Linked DNA regions of Homo sapiens: region 1 is linked to region 2. The links come from fine-mapping of genetic effects on gene expression. A gene starts in region 2. The other region holds a variant in brackets. All regions are shown on one strand. Distances are between the middles of the regions. Region 1 overlaps TRIM14 (tripartite motif containing 14). Region 2 holds the start of TRIM14 (tripartite motif containing 14).

Region 1 (2,910 bases), 28 kb after region 2:
GTCATTTTCTGAAGTGAGAAAGAGTATTTAGGACTGGAGGGAATGAAGTGAACCTGTTAGATTTGAGAAGTTGGACTTCCCATGTGGTGGTATCGCCTCGGCAGTAGGACCTATGATTCTAGAGTTCTGGGGAGAGGGGAGAGGCTTTTGCCTTGATGAAAGAACAACTTCAGCCAAATTAAATTTAAAGGAGTTTAAATGAGCAATGAACGATTCATGAATCCGGCAGCCCTCTGAGCCACAGTGCACTCAGAGACTCCAGCACAGCCACGTGGTGGAAGAAGATTTAGGGACAGAAAAAGGAAAGCGACGTACAGAAAACAGAAGTGAGGTACAGAAGCAGCTGGATTGGTTACAGCTCGGCGTTCGCCTAATTTGAACACAATTTGAACAGTTGGCTACATCTGATTGGCCAAAACTTGGTGATTGGCACAAGTGCAGGCTACGGTCTGTTTACACCTCCACTTGTTATTGTTCATGACGTACAGAAAAATATGTAGGCCGAACTTAAAAGATGTAAGGAGGAGCTTTAGGCAAAACTTGATTTAAACAGCCTGCAGGTGGGCTTCCCACAGATCTCTACAGGCCCCTGTGATGAGTGCTGGGAGTGATGGGGGCGGAAGGCACTTCTGCGGAGGTGCTGAGTGAGCTGCGGCCCCAATAGCTGGGAAGGAGGCAACCTGGGCAAGGGGGGAAGGGTGTGGGGGGGCTGTCCAGGCAGAGGGCACAGCAAGTGCCAAGGGCCCTGGGTGCCCCTGCTGTGCCCGCTTGTTGGGATAGACTCCCCTCCTTCTTTCTTTCTGAGCACTCAGACCTTCCTGAGGACTCAGCTCTACTTTCTTGTTTTCCATCTTTACCCTGGAATCTGCACATCTTCCCTGAGTCGCCGCCCATCCTTGAGTGTTGGATCCAGTAGTTGTTCGCGCCTCAGCTCCTCCTCCTATTTAGGACTCTCCCACACCAGCCTTGTCATCCTGGGGTTTTCCTGTCCCTGTGAATTCACATAAATCCCTTAAATCTGCCTGGCTCTTGGGCGAGATTATGCGAATCTCCAGTTGTGTGGTATTTTTAGCACGTCTTATTTGTCTGCTTGCATAAGCTCCGGGCGCTCATTTCTCAACAATTCCTTACAGGCATAAACTGCCAGCTCTCAGACCCTTCCAGCACCAAGCCAGGTACCTTGTTGAAAACCAGCCCCTCACCAGAGCGATCGCTATTGCTGAAATGTAAGACCCCCGGGAGTGGGGATAGGGTGGAGACGGTGGAGATGGTGGGATGTTGGGTGGAGGAGGATCATGGAAATGGAGGTCCCTCTTTTTTTCTCATTAGAATTTATTTATTTATTTATTT[T/ATTTATTTT]AAGAACTTGTTTTTTAAAAAATGTTTATTATTAAAGGCAATAAAACAATACATGTTCATTGTAGAAAAATTAGAAAATGAAAGAAAAAAGTTACTCATAATCCCTCTTCTGTGAATAACTGCTATTATTATTTGTCCTTTTAGCTTTTTTAGCACATCTAATATGCATATAATGATATATTTAATATATCTTTTTATGTTACAAACGTGGTGTCATACTATACATACTGTTTTGTCATCTGTTTTCATTTACTGATATATTATGAACATATATATATTTGGGATTTATACAGTGAGCCACTGTGCCCAGCTAATATTATCACTATGTGTGTGTGTGTGTGTGACCGAGTCTTGCTCTGGAGTGCAGTGGTGCAGTCATGGCTCACTGCAGCCTCGACCTCTTGGGCACAAATGATTTTCCCACCTCAGCCTCCCTCATAGCTGGGACTATCAGTGTGTGCCACCATGCCCAGCTAATTTTTTATTTTTATCATTGTTTTTAGAGGTTGCATGGCATTGCATTGAATGGATGTGTCATATTTAGCCAATCTCATAATGTTGGATGTTTACATTTTCATTTCTAAAACAATGCTGTAATAAACATCCATTCTTGTACACATTTGTTGAATTGAATTAATGAATGAGAGAATGAACACACCATACCTCATTTTCAGATTATTTTTTAGGAGTAATTTCTCAAGTGGAATTACTGGGTGTCAACCTAAAAAAGACTCAATCTAAAGAAGGCTCAGTATCCAGTTAGCAGAGTTTATTCAAGTGCAAAGTAACCATCAGGAGACAGAGGGAAACCAAAGAATGGTGATCACTGCCCCTGGTGTTGGGAGGGGGACAGTGAATATCAAAACAGAGGCACTGAATAAATTTACATTTTCCATACAAAGGCTAACATACTGATTTAAAGGCCGAGCACGGTGGCTCACACCTGTAATCCCAGCACTTTGGGAACCCAAGGCAGGTGGATCACTTGAGGTCAGCAGTTCGAGACCAGCCTGCACAACATGGTGAAACCCTGTCTCCACTAAAAATACAAAAATTAGCTGGGCATGGTGGCATGCACCAGTAGTCCTAGCTGCTCAGGAGACTGAGGCAGGAGAATCGCTTGAACCCGGGAGGCGAAGGTTGCAGTGAGCCGAGGTCGCACTACTGCACTCCAGCCTGGCAACAGAGCAAGACTCCGTCTTAAAAAAAAAAAAAAAAAAAAAAGTGCACAAATCAAAAATGTGCAGATCAATCAGCTCAATGATTTTTTAAAAAGGAAACATATTTTGTAACCACCTTCAGATCAAGAAATGGAAATTTCCACTCCCCAGAAGTCTTCCTCATGTGCCTTCTTGTTTACTATCCCCAAAGGGGATCCACTCTCCAGACTTCTAGGACTATAGGTTAGTTTTACCTGTTTTTGAACTTTCAGTAGATCATTCACACTATACCCTTCTGTGTTTTGCTTCTTTCACTCAATATGAGATTTATCCATTTTTGTATATTGACATACTGAGTGGCTGTTATAAATTCACTTAGTACTTCTAAGCTATCTACAGA
Region 2 (2,910 bases):
AGGCAGAACAGACAGTCTTTGCCCTCTCCAGTTTTCAGTCATGGCTGCGGGAATGGGGAGGGCCAGGATAGGGAAAGCATAGGCTGTTCTGGAAGGAGAAGGAGGGAAGGCTTCCTGGAGGAAAAGATAGTAAGGTAGAAACCTGCAGAGTAAGTTGGAATACTCAGGGCAAAGGGCATTTGGGAAGAAGAATGTTCCAAGCAGGGTAAACTGCACGTCCCCCAGTCTTGAAAAAGCACAGGGTGGAGCATAGGCAGGGCGGAGACCAAGGATCTTAAGAAAGAGCTGAGGGCTTTATAAGTGGAAGTCTAGACTTGAGCCTGGGGGGGCAACTGGAATTTGGGGTGGTGGTGTGTGTGTGAAAGTTGTCAGTACCAAAACAGAGTCACTTACATCAAAACCAAACTAAATGGTGCTCCTGTAGTCCCAGCTACTCCAGAGATGAGGTGGGAAGATCACTTGAGCCCAGGAGTTAGAGGCTGCAGTGAGCTATGATCGCACTATTGCACTCCAGCCTGGGCAACAGAGCGAGATCCTGTCTCAAACAAACTAAATGGTGCTGGGAGGCCATGAAGTGGGGGGCCCTCATCAACGATTTGCCTGGTAACAGGAACTATTATTGCAAAAGATTCCACCAAACTGCAACCTTGCACAAAGAACCACAACCTTGCACAAAAGCCATGATATGAGGACATCTGCCCAGCAACTGCCTGTTCAACTTTTGGACTGAAGCCACCTGTATTAATTCTTGTAACCAAGTATTATTATTTTAAAACGATCTGGCCGGGCGCGGTGGATCACGCCTGTAATCCCAGCACTTTGGGAGGCCGAGGCGGGCAGATCACGGGGTCAGGAGATCGAGACCATCCTGGCTAAAACAGTGAAACCCCTTTTCTACTAAAAATACAAAAAATTAGCCGGGCGTGGTGGCGGGCGCCTGTAGTTCCAGCTACTCGGGAGGCTGAAGCAGGAGAATGGCGTGAACCCGGGAGGCGGAGCTTGCAGTGAGCAGAGATGGCGCCACTGCACTCCAGCCTGGGCGACAGACCGAGACTCCGTCTCCAAAAAAAAAAAAAAAAAAAAAAAACAAAAACAAACAAACAAACAAAAAAAACAGTATATGCAATCCTCCTCGTTTTGCCTTTAAAAGCCTCTGCTTTCCTTTGCCTCCCTGAGTACTCCGCGTCCCCACCCCTTGGGTGCCATGGCACATTTATTCCCGAATTGCAATCCTTCTGCTCAGTCCGAAATAAACTCAATTGGAGAATCTCTGTGTCCTTATTTGAGGTTGATGAAGGTATCTTACAGTTGTGGGAATGATTATCTTTCCGGGGAAAAGGGCAAGAGAGGATCAAGGGAAAGTGAGAGGAGCACCCCCGGAAGGTCACAGCCAACTTTGGTCCCATCATCAGGGCTGCAGTTTTCTGGGCGTTACTGGAACAGCGTCATTAAGCAGGAAGCCCACCCTCTCCTAGCTGGCTCATTAGGAGCTTCCCATTTCTGGTGGGACCACCTCCCGGCCTGGGCGGGCAGAGGGAGCACCCTGCTGGTCGGAGGATGCTCCGAGGCCCGACGCTGCTCCCGGCGGGCTGTCATCCTCCTAGGGGTCGGCCGGCCGGCCTGGAGCCGCCCCGCCCACGGCCGAGGTTTCGGTTTCCCTTGGGAGCCCCGCCCTGTGTCCCGGGGAGCCGGAGGAGGTGGAGATGAATGGCGGGCGCGGCGACCGGGAGCCGGACCCCTGGGAGGTCGGAGCTTGTCGAGGGATGCGGCTGGCGCTGCCCGGAGCATGGCGACCGCGTGGCTGAGCTCTTCTGTCGCCGCTGCCGCCGCTGCGTGTGCGCGCTTTGCCCGGTGCTGGGCGCGCACCGTGGCCACCCTGTGGGCCTGGCGCTGGAGGCAGCGGTGCACGTGCAGGTGGGGACGATGGGGACGGGGTTCGCCGCGCGGGAGTTGGGGGAGCCAGCCCAGGCATAACGGCCGAGGAGGGGGCGTGCCTGGCCGTGGCCAGTGGCGGGTTACAACCTGGAAACCAAAGGTGCCCCAGAGGGCGTCTAAGCGGTCGACCGAAAGTTCAGAGCGGGAGCCTGAGACCCAAGGAAGGGCAAAGGCGAGCCAAAGCCATCAGTTGAGCTTCAGAAAAGGTGGGTTTAGGAGTGAGAGGTTGGGAGCCCAGGCTGGTACCCAGATGTCCTTGACCGTGTCCACCATGGCCGATCCGCCACACTGCCATTGGGCTGGAAGACAGTCTGCCTTTTAGTTAACAGAGGTACAAACTCTCCCTCTTAATAAACAGCCCTGTGTAGCTCAGAAAGCCACACAGACATCTCAGGTTTACTTAATCTGCAGTCCACAGAAAGGGCCTGTGAACTTTGAGCTGAGGACGGCCTGACTGCCCTGGGAGCAGCCTCAGCTGTCACTACCTACCTCCTCTCCCCTCCCCGGCCACACAGACACTCCCATTCCTGCTCATAGCAGCCCTGGGTGAGCCATTATTATTACAGCCATTTTATAGGCCACAAGAGGAAGGCTCTGGAGGCAGGGGCAGGCCTTGAACCCAGGACTCCATTAGCCAGATGCCCCCAACAGGGCCATTGTCACCGTGGAACCCTTACCCATGCATAATCCTAACAGTGCCCCAGGGGCTCTGGGCTCCTGCTCCAGCTTCCCAGCTGACTTTTTCTGTGGCTTCTCTCAAATCCTTCTCTCTCTCTGGGTTTCATGAAGCCTGGGTGAGGTAGGCCCTCATGTCTGACAGCTGTTGATCCTACCACTTGTCTCCAAGAAGTCTTCTGTGATGAATTCAGCCCCATCGTGAGCCTTTCTCCGGTACTGCATGACTCCAGACCACCACACTGTGACAACCTTGGAACTCCAAGGTGAAAAGGGGATCATGGGGGACAATCCAGTGGA

Evidence for each region. PIP is the estimated chance that this variant, and not a neighbour inherited with it, causes the effect.
Region 1: its variant is fine-mapped to the expression of TRIM14 in whole blood (INTERVAL, PIP above 0.99).

Annotation. Positions count from the first base shown.
Region 1 is chr9:98,090,225-98,093,134 of GRCh38, reverse strand. It overlaps TRIM14 (tripartite motif containing 14), which reads left to right. Exons shown (of 6, transcript NM_014788.4): 5 at 1,134-1,226. Among named protein-coding and RNA genes, the nearest start is that of TRIM14, 28 kb to the left of the region's middle. RefSeq lists an enhancer at 1,924-2,483. The variant T/ATTTATTTT (reference allele first, on the strand shown) is at 1,351.
Region 2 is chr9:98,117,986-98,120,895 of GRCh38, reverse strand. It overlaps TRIM14 (tripartite motif containing 14), which reads left to right and starts at 1,674. Exons shown (of 6, transcript NM_014788.4): 1 at 1,674-1,914. The coding sequence starts at 1,708. RefSeq lists a silencer at 1,741-1,840 and an enhancer at 2,151-2,200.